2 linked regions of the Homo sapiens genome follow. Each later gene encodes a partner of the first gene's protein in a complex. Each region holds a gene or a part of one and is shown in the gene's direction. Other genes may lie near its edges. The genes, in order: ARHGEF2 and RHOA.

Evidence for each region.
Region 2: the proteins of ARHGEF2 (region 1) and RHOA are in contact, whole or in part, in a crystal structure (PDB 7G9I), measured with the Homo sapiens proteins. Residues at the interface, in NP_001155855.1 of Homo sapiens: Asp215, Ser216, Ser218, Leu219, Asp238, Val239, Glu242, Thr246, His249, Cys342, His345, Ser346, Leu349, Lys353, Lys376, Arg377, Gln381, Glu382, Leu385, Leu386, Thr388, Gln389, Ile391, Thr392, Lys393, Leu396, Leu397, Arg400, Lys423, Leu426; in NP_001300870.1 of Homo sapiens: Arg5, Lys7, Lys27, Gln29, Val33, Tyr34, Val35, Pro36, Thr37, Val38, Phe39, Glu40, Asn41, Tyr42, Val43, Asp45, Glu54, Trp58, Asp59, Ala61, Gly62, Gln63, Tyr66, Asp67, Arg68, Leu69, Leu72, Ser73, Pro75, Asp76.

The regions. Positions count from the first base shown.
Region 1 is NC_000001.11:155,975,548-155,983,423, reverse strand, and holds the start of ARHGEF2 (rho guanine nucleotide exchange factor 2), read left to right. Parts: upstream 1-4,876; 5' UTR 4,877-4,996; coding exon 4,997-5,059; intron 5,060-5,248; exon of another isoform or gene 5,249-5,357; intron 5,358-7,876. UniProt on the Homo sapiens protein: Activates Rho-GTPases by promoting the exchange of GDP for GTP.
Region 2 is NC_000003.12:49,405,534-49,415,806, reverse strand, and holds the start of RHOA (transforming protein RhoA isoform 1 precursor), read left to right. Parts: upstream 1-3,830; 5' UTR 3,831-3,987; intron 3,988-9,000; exon of another isoform or gene 9,001-9,095; intron 9,096-10,273. Other genes in the region: TCTA (T-cell leukemia translocation-altered gene protein), read right to left, coding at 945-987, 2,697-2,751, 3,167-3,380. UniProt on the Homo sapiens protein: Small GTPase which cycles between an active GTP-bound and an inactive GDP-bound state.

The DNA.
Region 1 (7,876 bases):
CTTCCTAAATAGAGGGGCCTGGGAAACTGAAATGCCCACATCCAGGAAGTCCTAGGAGGTCAGGATGGGGGCTTATCTTTCTCTCCCAATCCTTCCTCTTTCTTCCTTCCCATTCTGGCTCTGCTGGTCATGGCACCTTCATCCACCATCTCTCAGGAAGTTATCTTTTTCTTCATTTCCAGCATTACCTCCATCTCCTCATGTCTTCTTTTTCTCTATGCAGCTGCAGCCAGCTGGAAGGACATTCAGGTACCCGGGTAGGCTCCTCCCTGCGACAGACCTTCAGCTTCCTCTCGGGCATGACCGGAAAGGCCAAGGTAGGAGTCAGCTGGGGAAGCAGGAGGCTTGGGACCCACTGCCCTCTCCAGTTCCCTTTCTCCCATCCCACCATCGCCACCTCCCACCACTCCCCCTATTAGAAACTCAGAGCAATGGTTCCATTTTTTATTTTTTTATTTTTTTAAGAGAGGGGGTTTCTGTCTCCCAGGCTGGAGTACAATGGCACAATCATAGCTCACTGCAGCCTCTAACTCTTGGGCCCAGGAAATCCTCTTGCCTTTACCTCCCAAAGTGCAGGGATTACAGGTGTGAGCCACTGTGCCCAGCCAAATGCTTCAAATTTTAAGGAAACACATGCTATCTCTTCCAGCCTGTGTCTCTGTGTCCCAGTAAATCACCTTTTCTCTGCTTTCCCCTACGCATCCAGCTTAGCAGTCAGCTGTGGACAGATGGAAGGGGAAAAGGGCCAGGAACCTCAGAAGCTGAGGAATGGCCTAGCCCTCCCTCTCTTTAGGCCTCACATAGCTGACAGGTGGGCAGCGGAAACCTCAACCATTGGACATAATAATGATAATAATTACAGCACTACTTTTTACTTCTTCATAGAGTATCAGGGTTTGCAAAGTGCTTTTACACTCATAATTTTATGGGTGGGTACAGCAGCTGAAGGAGTTGAAATTAGACCACAGGCAGAGTAGAAGCTGGGAAAGTATATGATTATGGAAGCACATGCATACCCGTACATGTGCGGCCATGTGCTGTTCTGATCCCAGGAAGTGAAGGCACATTGTTCTCATCCTTATTACCAACCGTTGGGCTCTGGTGAAACCGGGAGCTCTGCCTGCTCCTTGAATTTGTTTCCACTTTCTTCATTTACTGTCAGAGTGAGCCGCCCCCCTTTTCCTCCCCTGGCCTCCCCAAGTATGCATGTGCTTTCCAACTCGGGGCGGCTTCTGAGTATTGAAAGAAACCCCAGGGAAATCATCATCATATTCACCTTGAAGAGCCATGAGATTCTCACCAGTAAGGTTGCCTGGGCTCCTCCCAGCCCCACCCGCAGTGCCAGGGTTCTCCCCTCTTCCAGCCTTTTTTTAGCCAAGATTCCCTTTTCTCTGGGTGGGCTGGGAAGGTCAAGATGAAAGCAGGTCATGTTGTTAGCACCTCTCACCACAGGCCATGGGTCGGGAGTTGAGGCTAATGGAGGCATGAGACTGGGTGAGTCTCAGAAGAGGAGCAGCTGGAGAATCTGAAAGCTGATGGGAGGGGAGGGCAGGTGGGACAGAGAGGTTTCTCTCCCATGGGGGAATGGAGATCTCGAAGGAACAAAGCAAAAGCAGAAACCTTGGGGTCTGAGTCTCACCTTCCTACAGGCTGTCTCACTGCAGGGTAGGGGAGTCTGCTAGTGGAATCACTCCCTTTTCTTGCCATGGGAATGGTAGGGGAAGTCAGTACTGCCCAGGGGCCATCCAGATCCCGGTTGGTCTGTTTGTCCACCCTTGACCTAACAGTCTGATGGAGGGTTGAGCAACCTGGTGAAGGGGAATGAGGGCAGAGACTCTGGAGCCCAGATGGGAAAGAGGGAAGCGCCAGAGTGAGTCAGGACATTGCCTCGCTCAGCCTTTCCTCCCCACGTCTGTCATCCTGTCTTCCTCTGTTTCCCTCTCCACCATCTCCTGCTACATCTTCCTTCCACCTTCATGAATGTGTGGGCCTGCTTCACTTAATCTCTTTCTCCATAAGCAGTAAACATCAGGGGGTGGGGCTGGAGAGAAGCTCAGTCAAGCAGTGAGAGAAGGAAGTAGCTTAGTCCCTCCTACTTGAGTAGCATTGCACACTTGATGAAACACTTTCAACTCATTTAATTCTTATAACAATTCTGGCAAAGATAAGTATTTCAATCTCAATTCTACAGACAAATACTTAAAGGTTAGTTACTTTGCCCAAGATCTCACAGCTCATAAGAGGTGGCGCCGTATTAGAAACTCAGGGCTTTGGCTGTGTATTGCCACTGTTTCTCTCAATAGCCGTAACACAACAGTTCATTCCCTCTCATCCTTCCCTTCTTCCAGCTTCTGGCTGGATGGCCACTTAAGGCAATTTGGCCTTAATCACCTCCTCCCAGAATATACAAGGTCCAGACCAATAGAAGAAAGAAGAAAAACAAACCACCTTGGGACAGTGTAGAGCTTGGGCTTGGGTATCCTCGGGAGACCCATCTCTTCTCCAACTGGCCGAGACTTTGGCAACCAGGTTCTTCCCTGGGACCTCCTCCCTACCCCTGAAATGGGAGGGACACATTTCGTCAAGTTAAATGGGCTAAAGAAGGTGATGGCTATTTTTAGATCCTGGTAGAAATGTTTGTTTCTGTGTATCTAAAAAATTATTTCTGAAAATCTGGAAGATATCACTGGATAGGAGTAGAGGGGGCGCTGGAATGAAGAAGGGTCTTGGAAAAGGGGGGCAGGTGACACCAAGGAGAAGGGAAAAGTGTTCATTGTTCAAGAGGATATAGAAAACGGAAACTGAGTCAAGCTGCAGGCCAAGCTCACTAAACACAGGTGTTTTTAAAGGCAGAACACTTTTCTTTTCCCTGTCCCTAGTCCCTTTCCTTGTTATTCATCTCCTAAGGGGAAGAAGAGGGCATAGGGTGAGGGGTAGGGTAACAGCAGGTGGGATGGAAAGTAGACTGAAGGTTGGGGTGGGAGACAGAAAAGAGTTGGAGGGTCGGGTCCTCTTCTTTCATAGAGACCTTCTTAGTTGAGTTGAGGGACCATGAGGTCGCTTGAAAAACCCCAGGGTTCAAATTCTATGTTTCCTGGGTACCCAGGCTGGAGTGTGGCCCTTTAAGATTCTATCCATAGCTTGCAGCACCCTCCTGCCCCAGGCCTGGGAGAGAAGCTGAGGTCCCACCCCAGATCTTGTCTCTGGGCCTCCAGTGGGTGGAACCTTGAGGCCAAGATTCTAGCCTCTGGCTGTCTGTTTTTAAATTTAGTACATTCCTGAGTCTTGGCTGCCCACCTCAGGGGAGGTGAGTCTGGAGTTCTGGGGCCAGGAGCCTCAGGCCTCTTGGTTTGGGGGAGTTCCTACACCCTCCCCGTAGGTATACTTGGCAGGTGCAAGCCAGGAAGAACAAGCTGTGGCCCTGGGGAAGTCCTTCCTGCTTTCTAATGTCCATCCAGCCTGAACTGGGCACGGTTTATTTCCTCTTCCTTTTTCCTGGTCTTTGCTATTTAAGGATTCTAAACAGGGGAATGGGTGAAGAAGGAGGTGAAGGAGTTGCTAGGAAGGAGGGGAAGCCGGAGGGGCAGTGTGGGGGTAGTGCTGGGGGTGAGGAGCCCAACCAGCTCAGCCAGTGGTGAGGTAGTGGAGCCCAAAAATAGTGGCAGAGGCTAAAATTGGCACCTACAAGAGTGCTGAGTTGGGCTTGAAACCTGCAGCCTGGCCCCACTGCTGAGCCAGGGCAGAGAACTGCTGGATCTGGGTTGGGTCTCCCCTCCCTCCCTTCTTCTCCCACGCCCTTTGGGGCCAGAATCAGGCAGGACCCTGCTAACCGAAGGCTCTGTCCCAGGCCTCTCTGTGCTTCTGGTTTCTCCAGAGAAATGGGAGACCCTGAGAGGCAGAAATGAACTTCACTGTAAGTGATCATAGTTAGACTGGAGGAGGAATTTTCCCAATAGCAGGAAACTCACCCAAAGGCTGGCTCAGGCTGGGGAAAAGGGTCCAGAGAGATGAATGCCCCACCTTACCCTGCTTCTTGGGGAGAGGCTGGTTGGGCCCTAACTTTCTTTGACTAGGGCAGGCTGGTTTCTGGTCTTTCAGTTCCGGCTTAACTTGCAACAGAGAGAACTGCAGTTAGACACATGGAAGGCCTTCGGTAAAAGTGGAGAATCCCAACCTAGTCCCCCAAAGTAGCTGGCAGAGGCGGAGCTAGGAGGAGGGCAGAGTGGGGTCAGGAAGGCCCCAGAAGGGTGGGGCATGTGGGAGAATTCTCTCCTCTCTGTTCTTCGACCTCTGGGAGTGAATCCTACCCTTCCCGTGTACTGAAGATCCAGCGTTTAGTTCTCCTTTGATTTCCTCTCCCTCTGGCCACCCCTGCCCCCAATCGTAAAAGGGGTCAGTCTGCTCAGGCCTGCTTTGATGGGACCCCGAAGGCCAGGAAGGAACTGGTCCTGGGTTTTCTAAGAGCTGGGGGCGGATGGAATTCTCCTGCCTGCGGGTCTTTAAAGACTGAGGTAACGCAGTAGGGGAGGGAAAAAGGGAGGGCGAGGGGAGAAGGGAAGAAGGGGAGGGCAGAGGGGAAAGGGCCAACCTGGGTCCGGCGAGGGCTGCGGGGCTGGGTTTTAGGAAAAGAAGAGCTAAGAGGCGGGTCTCTGGGGCTAGAGGGCGCCCCCAGGCGCTGGAGGGGAAATAGGCAGAGGGGCCTCTCAAACCTGTCCTAGGACCCTCGTACCTCTCCGAGCTGCCCCCACACAAACCCTGGCGTCCCGTCCTGCGCGCGGGCACCCCGCCCTCCCTCCGCTCCGCCTACCCCCTTCCTGAGCTTGGGCGGGGGAGGAGACTCGGGTTTGAGGAACTGGTGCTGGGTGCCGGGCGAGGGGAGTCAGACTTCCTGTCCCCGAGACCAACGCGTGCGGGCCGAACCCCTCCCCCCGCCTTCCCCCAACAATACAGGACGCCGGGGTCCGCGCCGCGTCCTCCCTGGTCCCCCCGTCCGATTATGTCTCGGATCGAATCCCTCACGCGGGCGCGGATCGACCGGAGCAGAGAGCTGGCGAGCAAGGTGGGCTCGGAAACCCCTCTCCTTTCGCCGCGGTCCTCGGGTGCTCCCCGAACCCCGGCACCCGCGGTGCATCTCCTGTCTCCCCGCCTGCTTTCTGGGCGCCAAAATCGGGCGGAGCGGTGGATCGGCGAGCGGCGGGACGGGGTGGGTGGGGACTGCGAGCGAGTGGGTAGGGGTGGGGGGAGCGGCAGACGCGACGGTGCTGGGATCCCGGGAGGGAGCGGAGCGGACCTGGGCTTGGTCGCCTCCAAGCCGGCGGGACCGAGTGCTTTAGGCCGCTTGAAAGAAAGTTGCTCCGGTAAGGGACGGAGCGGGAAGAGGGAGGTGTGTGTCTCGCGGGTGGGGGCGGTGGAAGCTCCGGCACCTCCTCTCACCCCGGGCCCCACCGGCTTGGGCTTGGCGTGGCGACCCCCCATCACTCCCCAATCGCTGGCTTGGTCGTTCCCCCTTTGTCCCCGCCATCCGGCGGAGGGGACGGGAGGGGGTGGTTTCCCGGCTTCCTCCCACCACCACCACCACCCCTCCAAGACAAAAGTCAGCTCCTCCTCTCCTCGCAAATGGACTTTCCAGCTGTGATTCAGTTCTCCCCTCTGGGTGGGCGGGTGGCTGGGGTCGGGACGGCCGAGGGACGGCTTACTTCCCCCAAACCATCACCTCTAGGTGAAGGGAGCAGAGGTCTTTGTGTAGCTGGGCTCCTTTCCTCCATCCTGAGCCCTTCTGCCTGGAACATAGGGCCTCCATCCCTATCTGCCCCGCCAGCCTCCTAGCTCTTCCTTCTCCCAACCTGAAACCCTTAGGCTGACACACCTGGCACTATGCATTGTGTTCCCTGCCCTTCCTCCTCCTCCCCCAGCGCTCTCATTCTCTTATCTGCTCGTCTTGGGGTCCCTTCACCTAGCATTTCATGAGTCTGGGTGTATAATTATCCACACGCCTCCCCCATCATGACCTCTTGGCCACTCCTCTCCAAGTACCCTTTATCCCTGCCTTTGTACCCAGCCCCATTCCCAAGTGCCCTGACCTTTCCACACCCAGACCCCAGGAAATGATGAAGCTGACTTGCAGGTGAATAAGTCAGAGCTGAAAGGAAGGTGGTGCCTGCAGACAGCACCTCCCAGCTCCTTTGGGGCCCCCGCACTGTACCCATTATCAGAAAGGACAGGTCCCAGCCCAGAGTTGGTTTAATCTCTGGCTTCTCTCCAACCTGAGTGCCCTACTACCCTGGTGCCAGCCTATGCTGATCACCAACTTCAGCCAAGGGAGCAGTACCCCTTAGGAGTCCTTAAGGGTGATGGAAAGCCCTCCCCTCCACCTCCCTGGTAGTTCCTAGCCAGGCTACCTGTCTTGATGCTAAACTGGGAGAGACAGAGGTTCCATCCTGGGTTGGGGGTGGAGGGCCAGGGAAAGCAGCTTTAAAAGGACTTTCCTTAGGGGGTTGGGATTAGATTTTGCTATCTGGAAAGCAACTGGGGATTCGAGTAGGGCCTAAGACAAACAGAGGGCCGGGGTGAGGTGGCTGAAGTGTGGTGGAACAGTGGGGTGGCAGACAGGCTCTTCACAGCCTGCGCCAGCCCAGGCCCCAGCTCCAAAAGTCTGTTTATTTTTTCAACCGTTTGAGCTGAGACCCTGGAGTAGAGCCAAGGGGGGCGGGGGAGGTTTTTTGAAACCGCAGAAATTTGGTTCCACCCTAAAAAGGAAAGCCATGGGGGAGCTGGTTGGGGGAAGACCTGGCTAGGGGGTATAGAGAGCGGTTCTGTGGGGGCAGGTAGCTACTGGGATCCCTTTTCCATTATTGTGGGGAGCTGGGACGTCAGACATCTGGGTGTTCATGCTCTGTTTTTGTTTTTGTTTTTGGTGGTGGGGGGACTGGCTCTTCTTTCTACTATGGGGGCTGGCTGTGTGGGGCAGGTAATTTGGGAATCTGGCTGGCAGCAGGGAGTCGGGGGCTGAGTGGGTGGATCTGAGAGGGCAAAGAGGCCACCGGAGAAGGGTGGTTGTCAGTTTGGGCCGGTCGGAAGGGGAGGGCCACCTCCGGAAAACTGTGGTTACAGAAGGGGGAGTTGGTTCTTAGCCAACAAACCCTGGATCCCCTCTCCCCCTCCCCCCAGCACACCAGCTGTCTCCTTTCTTTTTATACTGTGGTGGGAAGTAGAGGGGCACCCGCTGGAAAAGACATTATTTGAAGAAGATGGTGTCCCCTGCTACCTCCTTGGGGGGATGGGTCACAGCTAAGCCCTGACACCTCAGCCCCTCCCCATTCCTTGCCTCATTCCCTGGGAGCTCCTCCTAGGAGGAGGAATGTAAGTTTAACCTGCCCCTTTCTCTGTCCCATCCTCACAGGATCTCTCTGTGTAGCCCCCTCCATGCTTCCTTTTTCTTTTCACTCCATTTCTGTTCTCCCAGGCTGTCTTCAGTCCTCCACCTCCTCTGTTCTCTCTGCTCTACTTCCTACCTCCACAAGCCCCAAACCTCACAGGTCCCCTTTCTCTCTTTAGTCCCCTGTTCTTCCCTTTCTCCTTTCCCAAACCCCAACCATCATATCCCTTAGAACAAAGGGTCCTTTTCTGCCAAGCAGGGACCAGAGGTCCAGGGATGGCTGTGGAGGCTGGGGGTCCCCTTGGAATCTCTGTGGTGGGCAGGTGGAGTGGGGAGTGTGCAGAGCGACTATTTCTTTGTTCTGAGGAATGGAGAGGTGGCTGGCTTTGTGTGCAGGACTAGGAGTGCAGTGGAGAGGAGAGCTGGGGGAGCCCAGGAGGGAGCTGAGAGGGCTGACGGTGTTGGAGGAGAGTGGAAGAATGGGGGGTCCTCCTGGTGGCT
Region 2 (10,273 bases), on another chromosome or scaffold:
CAATTTCCTTTGCCTGGCTCACGGGAGAAGTCTGGTTGGGCCAGGTATGTGGGTGTTTGGTGCCTCCATCTGGATAGTGCCAGCAGGTACACCACCCTGCCTTATACCTGAATGGCCAGCTAAATAACCATAGAGCTTAAGGTCTGGCTCAGGTCAGGATTCCCTGGCTCCTTGCCAACAAAGCAAAACCAGAGATTCAGAAAACTCAGGGCCTAGGAGAAAACAGACCTGCCTTACAAACCCCAGAGCTGGTCAACCTCAGGCTTCCTCTCAGGAAAAAAATTTTTTTTTTGAGATGGGTCTTGCTCTGTTGCCCAGGCTGGAGTACAACGGCGCAATCTTGGCTCACTGCAACCTCTGCCTCCCAGGTTCAAGCAAATCTCCTGCTTCAGCCTCCTGAGTAGCTGGGATTACTGGTGTGTGCCACCACACCCGGCTAATTTTTGTATTTTTAGTAGAGATGGGGTTTTCACCATGTTGGTCAGGCTGGTCTCGAACTCCTGACCTCGTGATCTGCCTGCCTCAGCCTCCCAAAGTGTTGGGATTACAGGCGTGAGCCACCATGCCTGGCCAACTCAGGAAAAATTTTTATGGGGTCACATCTTGGGGATGGAAGAGGGACAGGAAAAGAAACCTAAGACAAAAGAACTGATGGTCTTCCCAACCCAGAGGCTTCCTGAGTTATCACCCCTGAGAGAGGAAGAACACAATCTCTCTCCTTAAGGCACCCAGATAAGAGTACAGGCAAACTCTTCACTTGCCCAGTGCCTGGGTGAGGGAGCAGGCTTAAGAGGCAGAAGAGGCCCAGCCCTGTAGGCACTGGGTACTCCCTGCTACCAACCCTGAACCCCCGGCAGTTGTCCCTGAGGTCTGGGGAGTAGCAGAACCCAGTGTAGAAGCCAGCAGACCCAGTGATGCCCTTGGAGACCCTCTGCTGCCTTCCCTTATTCTCTGTGGGTTTTGAGAGGTTCGTTTGCTGCCATTTCCCTGAAAGTGATGGAGAGAGAGAAGAGAGAGTGGTTATTCCATGGGCAGAACAGTTGCTGAAATTGGCTCTCCCAAGCTCCTTCTTGGGGGCTGAGCTAGGCTCAGTAAGGTCACATAACAATCTAGACCTCTCTGCTGGTCTCCCACAGCCCACCCTGGGCCCAGCACCTTCTCCCTGCAGACTCATTCTTCTTCCTGGTTCTCCATGTTAGTACGGCATTGCCATCCTTCTCTAGTTTTTTTATTCTTTTTATTTATTACTATTGTTATTACTTTTCTTTTTTTGAGACGGAGTTTCACTCTTGTTGCCCAGGTTGGGGTGCAATGGCAAGATCTCAGCTCACTGCAGCCTCCACCTCCCGGGTTCAAGCAATTTTCCTGCCTCAGCCTCCCAAGTAGCTGGGATTACAGGCGCCCGCCACCACACCCAGCTAGTTTTTGTATTTTTAGTGAAGACGGGGTTTCGCCATGTTGGCCAGGCTGGTCTCAAACTCCTGGCCTCAGGTGATCTACCCTCCTCAGTCTCCCAAAGTGCTAGGAACAGGCGTGAGCCACCATGCCCGGCCTGTTATTTTTTTTGAGACAGAGTCTCACTCTGATGCCCAGTCTGGAGTGCAGTGGCGTGATCTGGGCTCACTGCAACCTCTGCCTCCTGGGTTCAAGTGATTCTCATGCCTCAGCCTCCCGAGTAGCTGGGATTACAGGCGTATGCCACCATGCCCAGCTAATTTTTTCTATTTTTAGTAAAGACGGGGTTTCCCTATGTTGGCCAGGCTAGTCTCAAACTCCTGACCTCAAGTGATCCGCCCATCTCAGCCTCCCAAAGTGCTGGGATTACAGGCATGAGCCATGGGGCCTGGCCTCTTCTCTAAGACAGAAACCTGGGCAGTGGCAGCCTTTCTAACCTCTAGCCCTAACTCTTGGACCCCTTTATCTACTTGCCATGAAGTAGGCATTTATAAAGGCAAATTAGATCAGACCACAGCCTTGCTGAGTTAGTCTTTCAATGGCTCCCAGGGTCCAACAAGCTCTCACGTTCAAGCTCCAGCATCACAGTCTTACCTATTCTAATATGTCACCCGTATTCTTCCCTCTTAGCCTTGCTCAATCCATTCCCTTTGCTTGGTACACTTTGTCACCCTGTGGCATTTGATCTCGGCTTAGGTGTCTTTCTTGGGAGAAGCCTTCCCTGACCACCCTTGCCCCATGCACTGCCGCCCTCCCCTAATAAATCCCTGGCTCCCCATGAGCAGGGCCCGGGTTGTCTTTGTTCTCTGGGCCTCGTGTGGCCCCTATCACGTGATAGGGGCCCAGAGATTATCTGAATGAATGCCCTGATTAGTGAGCGCATGTTTTGCAGAAGAGGAGGCTGACCCTGATGAGGTCAATGTGCTCAGGACAGAGATTACTGCCTTCCCAACTGAGGGGATTGTGCAGAGTGGAATCCAACAAACCTGTCATTTCATCTCTCTGAAATTATGACAATACCACCACCTATCCTACAGGCTGCTGAACAGCATGATGATGGACTGTCCAGACCTTGGTGTCACCCTAACTTGAAGCCTGAGCTCTACGTGCAGACTTGAAGCTTGCTGCAAAGGCCATTAAGCTGGTGGGCTTAAAGCCTGAGAACTCCCCTCTCTGTCACCAGCACAGGAGTGTCCTTGGAATGCCAAGCATGGGGTTGCGGTATGGACAGATTTACTCACCACGAAGGGAAATGCGTGGAGCCATCAGGCGTGGATCCATTCTGACCACCCAGACCTGGAGGCAGAAACACATCCAGAGCTGCAGAAGGCTGGGGTGGGAATCTGAGCAGGCATCAGCCCAGGTCAGGTTAGAGACCACTGGTATTGTTTGGTGAAGTCTGGTGAGGGTCCTAAGGGACTAATGGTATTGCCAGGTGAGAGTTCTGAGGAACAGATACAATGTGATGGGTGGACTGGTGGGGATTCTGGCGTAAAATGGTATGGTGGCATGAGTCAGGGCACAACGTTAAGTTCTCCCATCCAAGTACCTGGCTTAGCTTCCGAGGTCAGATGCGTTCAGGGTAGTAAGGCCGTGAACCAATGTTAAGTTCTGATGAGCCTCTTGCAGGATAGTGGGGAACCCAATGGTACAGTCGGGAGAGGGTGGGGGCGGGGGCGGCCAGCCCACGGAGGTTCGTAGGAAGCCTCACCTGGACGGTGATACAACCCGGTCACTGTATTCCCGTAGAACCCCCACGCCAGCTGGATGCCCAGGAGACTTAACACCAACCACAGCAGCAGCAGCTTGAAGAGGGTCACGCGCATGTCCTGCGCCTCCCACTCCCGCAAGAACTCGCTGCCCAGCGCGCCCAGCACCGTGGCCGGCAGAGCCTGCAAGGCCTGCCCAGACCAGGACTCCGCCATGACTGGCCCTCGCCCCACCCGGGGTACTGTCACCGTAGTCCCCACCACGCACGCGTGTGGTCTTCCGGGACCAGGCCCGTTAGTGCGCACGCGTAAACCCAGCCAGGGTGGGGCCTACTTCGCGTGCGTGAAGAGTTGGCAGTTCGGGGAGGAGTATTAAAACCGCGCACGCGCACCTAACCCCACCCTGCTTGCTTAAGGGATGAGTGACTCCGGGAGTACAAAATAGCAACCAGGTCTTTTATAGCCCCGGAGTTCCCGTGATGCCCCACGCGGCTGCAATGATTGGTTAAGGGTTTTGCTTTTAGGGCGTGGACGGGCTCCTGAGCAATAGTGGATGAGCTGTGAGTGCGCGCGCGTGCGCGGGGCCGCGACCTGTGCCGGCTCGAGCCCGCTGGGCACTCGGAGGCGCGCACGTCGTTCCCCGCCCTCCCGCCGCCGCCCGCCCTCGCTCTCTCGCGCTACCCTCCCGCCGCCCGCGGTCCTCCGTCGGTTCTCTCGTTAGTCCACGGTCTGGTCTTCAGCTACCCGCCTTCGTCTCCGAGTTTGCGACTCGCGGACCGGCGTCCCCGGCGCGAAGAGGCTGGACTCGGATTCGTTGCCTGAGGTGAGCGGAAGGGTTCCCTCCAGGCGCCGCGGGGCCCCAGGCCCGCCAGCCCGGTACTCTTCCGGCCGGCAGGCCGCCGCACCGCCGCGGCCGCGCCCCACCGGCTGCTCGTGGCCGAGCCGCCCCTGGCCCCTGACCCTTGACCTGACTCCCAGCCCGGGCCCCGCGCCCCAAGCGGCGACCCCGCCCGCGCAGTCCCCGGAAGCGCGCCCGGTAGTCTCCTGTGCCCCTTCCCCCGCCCGGCCGGGCCTGGTGGAGCCCAGGCTGCCCGCCTGCCCGCCCTCGGTCCCCGGAGCTTCCTCTCCCAGCGGCGCCGGGCAGGGCGGGGGCTTTGGGCCGGGCCCCGCGACCGCGCAGTGTAGCCGGCCGCTGAAAGCGCGCGTGGCTGTCGGAGTTGAAATGGGAAAGAAACTCTTTACAACTCCATTTTGCTTTTTACGTTTAACGAGAAACGACAATCACTGTTTCATATTGATTAAAGTCCAGTTACACTTTGGGTAGGTTTTCTTTTAATGCAGACTTGTTGGAGACTGTGTAAGTAAGTAAAAGATTGTATTGAACGCTTAGGGGTATGATCTACGGCCATACCACCTGGAACGCGCCCGAACTCGTCTGAAAGCTTTGGGGTCTGTTTTGAGTGGAAAAGGGGTATTTTCCATTTGGAAAAAAAAAACAACACACAAAACTGTAAATGATTTAAGCGATGTTGCATGAAAATAGATGCAATGTTGCTTAGTCGAAGTCGCTGTATTGATTAGGAATGATCTAAATATCTGTACCTTAGTTACTGATTGGATCTACAGTTACGGGTCGTCTTCATTGAATAGCGCTATTCGCATCCAAGTTGATTTGTTCACAAACCTTGTTTAGTAGTTTACGGTGGAAAATTGGAATCCTTTTTACCTCAAAGTTGGTTCCACTTGTGTTTTTTAATAGTTCTGATTTTAAATTTTTACCTCTGTTGTTGACTTGTTTGGTTCTGTCTTGAAGAAAGTCTTAAACGTTTCTTGCAGGTGTGTAAGTAGATATTTCACTCTGCCTTTCTGAAGGAGAAAAATTGAAAAACCAAAAAACTTCCATAATTTAAAATGTTGTATGTGGAGAGAATTTTTCAACCACTTAGTATCACCCAGATGTGTAATGTGTACCATGCGGATGATTGTCACCTTAGATGTGGCTAGATTGGCGGAGATACTGTTTTGAGCATTTGGCACAAGTGACATTGGACTGAAAAACTAGTTTTTAATTGTAAAGAATGACTTATTGAAGGATCTCTGGATAACTTGTCTTAATTGGTTCCATCTACTTTTGTGGAGCACTGATGGCTCTTGGGGACATTAAATATATAAGGTGCACCTTGGTTTGAGTTAAAGTCTAGTGCTAGATTTATCCTCTCTGTTCTCATAAAAATCTGTGTTGGAGGGAAGAAGAGAGTAGGAATACTGTGTAGTTCTTGAGTTTTAGATCTAAGAGGAATCTTTCAGGACTGGTTGTCCAACCCCATTTGCAGATGAGCAAACTGAGTCCCAGAGACTTAAGTAAATTTCCCAAGGTTACCTATCTAGTCAGGAGCAGACCAGAACTGTCTGCTCTGTTAAGGTATTCTCCATTTACTCCCAAGCAGTTGGCCTCCAGAGTCAGCTAAAATTCAGGACTTCTAGCTTATTCCATTGTTTCTTCTTTTAAACCTTGTTGATGGTGAATAGTTTGGGAGAAACTGTTCATTTGCCAAAAAATTTCGGTTCATTAGCTTACACAGCACTCTCCCCTTGTTAACTGGATGGTCCTGCCTTCAATTGAGGGAGATAGATGAATGTACGAGGGTCCCTGGTTGGCCTAATCATGGCTTTGTTTGGATTTTTTTTTAAGGGACCAACTTCTAGAGCAAGGCCTACACTTTACTGCTTCAAAACCAAGATATTTAGGTCAGGCTAAGATATTTTTAGTTAACTGTGGGCACTTTTGACTGTTGATTTGGGGTACTGCGTGTATCAAGTAAACAATTCCCTGTGCACATGCATGTGGTGGTGGTGGAGTATTTTCGTAGTCCTGATTTCTTTCCATTTGTCAGTTAACTGCTTTTTAAAAGTTTATTCTGGTCATATGGGGGTGTAAGTTATTAGGAGAGTAAAAACAGGTAGCTCTTCAGGTGTTTCTTGTCCATGGGGTGGAGTCCATGCAGTGACTGGAGAAGGTGCTAGTTTGCGTCTTTTTAATTGTCTTAGAGAGCTGAGAGATATATGTTAACTCTGAGAAGAAAGACTGATCAGCTTCTAAGAGAGCTAATTTGAAGCTGCTGGCCTTCTGTAGACAGCACCTTGGGTTTAATTGCATTGTGGTTACTAGTGATTATGATAAATAGTACATAGTCACTGGATTTTAAAATTGGCCATATAGTTGTAGTTTTATATTTATTTTTATTTTTGAAATGGAGTCTCACTCTGTTGCCCAGGCTGGAGTGCAGTGGCGCGATCTCAGCTCACTGCACCGTCTGCCTCCTGGGTTCAAGTGATTCTCCTGCCTCGGCCCCTGGAGTAGCTGGGACTACAGGCACCCACCACCATTCCTGGCTAACTTTTGTATTTTTAGTAGAGATGGGGTTTCACCGTGTTGGCCAGGCTGGTCTTGAACTCCTGACCTCAGGTGATCCGCCTGCCTTGGCCTCCCAAAGTGCTGGGATTACAAGGGTGAGCCACCACGCCCACCCATATTTGTAGTTTTAAAAGGATCCTGGCAGGGCGCGGTGGTTCATGCCTGTAATCCCAGCACTTTGGGAGGCCGAGGCGGGCGGATCACGAGGTCTGGAGACCATCCTGGCTAACACGGTGAAACCCCGTCTCTACTAAAAATACAAAAAAAATTAGCTGGGTGTGGTGGCGGGCGCCTGTAGTCCCAGCTGCTCTGGAGGCTGAGGCAGGGGAATGGCGTGAACCCGAGAGGCGGAGCTTGCCGTGAGCTGAGATCGCGCCACTGTGCTCCAGCCAGGGCAACAGAGCGAGACTCCGTCTCAAAAAAAAAAAAAAAGGATCTTAAGTATTTTGTCTGACTCTGCCATTTAGTTTATTCCTTTGTTTACCTGCCCAATGGAACTGTTTGCTTGTAACTACACATTAATATAACTAAATTTTGAACTTAATGTTACATGCCTTGCTATACATGGGGCTCTTTGGGGACATGCTCATTTGTGGGATTAAAATTTCCAAGACGGTTTGAAGTTTGTAATTACTATAAAATCCCTCATCTTTAATCTGTGGAGCTGTAGTATTAAGTGAAGGCCTTGGTATGTTCATAATTACGATAGTCATGTGACTGAAAATCAGGCACTGAAGCTGCTCGTTCTGGGTGTTGGTCTCAGTTTATTGATGCTTCATCCAAATACATTTTTATAGCTAATAATAAAGAAAAACATCAAATACTCTTGCTAAATTGCAATCAGTATGCAGTTTATGCCAAACTTAGCTTGATTTTATTTTTTGAAGAGGATGAGTATGTATATTTAAGCATATGTGTGTGTGTGTATATGTATATATACTTGTGTATACGTATATACGTGTATACGTATATATATGTGTACATATACGTGTATACGTATATATATGTGTACATATACGTGTGTGTATGTGTGTGTGTATATATATATATTTTTTTTTTTTTCTCTTTTGAGACTGAGTCTCACTCTGTCGTCCGGGCCAGAGTGCAGTAGCGCCATCTCGGCTCACTGCAACCGCCGCCTCCTAGTTCAAGTGATTCTTGTGCCTCGGCCTCTGGAGTAGTTGGGAGTACCAGCATGCGCCACTGTGCTCAGCTAATTTTTGTATTTTTAGTAGAGACGGGGTTTCACCATGTTGGTCAGGCTGTTCTCGAACTCCTGGCCTTGTGATCTGCCCCCCTTGGCCTCTGAAAGTGTTGAGATTGCAGGTGAGAGCCACTATGTCTGGCCATATTTAAGCATATTTATGATAGTATCTTAAATTTAAGTGAAGGGAAAGAGGAAAACATACACAGCCAATGAAGTAAGTTTGAAGTGGAGTGAAAGGAAAAGTTGGAGGTAAAAAGAGGTTAGAGAGGTGGGCAGGGGCCAAATCATATAGGGCCTTTAGGACATGGGAAATTCTTTGGATTTGTTCTGAGATTAGAAGTCATTTAGATATTCTTTAGAAAGGGAATGACATGATCTGATATTAAAAAAAAAACTAGAATCACTGTGAGTAGGAGTAGATCTAATTCCATTCTGACTAAATAGTAAACTAATATGATAATTTGGACAAATATAAAAAGGAATTCCTGGCTGGGAGCAGTGGCTGATGCCTGTAATCCCAGCACTTTGGAAGTGCTGGGCAGGTGGATCACTTGAGGTCAGGAGTTTGAGACCAGCCTGGCCACATGGTGAAACCCTGTCTCTACTAAAAATACAAAACATTAGCTGGGCGTGGCAGCAGGCGCCTATAATCCCGGCTATTCAGGAGGCTGAGATAGGAGAATCACTTTAACCTGGGAGGCGGAGGTTGCTGTGAGCAGAGATCGAGCCATTGCACTCCAGCCTGGGAGACGGTGCAAGACTCAAAAAAAAAAAAAAAAAAAAAAAAACGGAAAGGATTTCATAATATTAATTTCCTTGACTTAGTGACTTCTGCCTATTTTATTTGAAGTCATTGGTTCTTCTCTTCTCTTCTCTTGAGACAGGGTCTCACTGTCACCCAGGCTGGAGTGCAGTGAGTGATCTTTGTTCACTTCAACCTTTGTTTCCCAGGTTCAAGCGATTCTCGTGCCTCAGTCTCTAGAGTAGCTGGGACTACAGGTGTGTGTGTGTGACCATGCCCGACTAATTTTTGTATTTTTAGTAAAGACGGGATCTCACCATGTTGGCCAGGATGGCCTTGATCTCTTGACCTCGTGACCCCGTGACCCACCCACCTTGGCCTCCCAAGGTGTTGGGATTACAAGCATGAGCCACTAAGGATTTGTTTTTAAAATTTTTTTGCTTTATTTTTTTCTTCTCTTTTTTTGTACTAGAGATGGTGTCTTGCTATGTTGCCCAGACAGATCTTGTACTCCTGGGCTCAAGTTGTCCTCCTGCCTCAGCCTCCCAAAGTGCTGGGATTAAAGATGTGAGTCAAGCGATTCTCGTGCCTCAACCTACCCACTAGCTCGATTACAGGTGCCATCCACCACCTGCCCACCACCCTTGGCTAATTTTTGTATTTTGTATTTTAGTAGAGACAAGAATTTTACCATGTCGGCCAGGCTGGTCTCAAATTCCTGACCTCAGGCAATCCACCCGCCTCAGCTTCCTGCTGGGATTACGGGCGTGAGCTACCCTGGCCAAGATTTTTAATTTCTGAAGCTTATAGCTGCTCTAAAGCACAAGGATTCAGTCCCATGATTTAAAAAAGTTGCTTGTTTTGACTTCAAGTATATGGTTGAGCATTCTAACTTTTGTTATGTATACATTTTTATTTTACTGTATTCTTCTAGCCATTGTATCCTAGTCTGTATGTTGCAGATGAGTTGTGATTCTCTGGTGTCTCTTCCATGGACCTAGAGATCATATGCTCTACTACTGGGATTTTTTTTTGTAACTTTGTTTGGGATATAGGCTTTGAGAGGTTAAGGAAGTAAATTTAAGATGGATATTTAATGTTGTAACACTTTGTTAATGCTTTTTTCTACAAGATAATTTTATTATGTGATATGGCAGCTTTGTTGGAAATACCTGTTTTTTTGTGTGTGTGGAAAATTTCTTTTCTGGATGAAATCTCTTGTTTAACTTTTCCAGTTATTCATAATGAAGCTCTGTTTATCTTTTGAAGATCTTAAGTTCAGAAACAGAAGGCAGGCTGCGTATGGTGGCTCATGCCAGTTATCCCAGCACTTTGGGAGGCCGAGGTGGGTGGGTCACCTGAGGTCAGGAGTTCGAAACCAGTCTGACCAACATGGTGAAACCCCATCTCTACTAAAAATACAAAAATCAGCCGAGTGTATTAGTGAGTGCCTGTAATCCCAGCTACTCGGAAGGCTGAAGCAGGAGAATCCCTCGAACTTGAGAGGCGCAGGTTGCAGTGAGCCAAGATTGCTGCACTCCAGCCCGGGCAACAGAGCGAAACTCCGTCTCAAACATACACACAAAAAAAAGAAGGAAAGAAAAGGCAGTAGAGTATCTTATTTAAGAGCATGGATTCTGGAGAGAAACTGACAGTTAAATACTAGCTCTGACACTTGATGGCTTGAGACCCTTGGCAGTAGTATGTCTCCTTTGTAATTCAGTTTTTTTCTTCTGTAGAAAGGG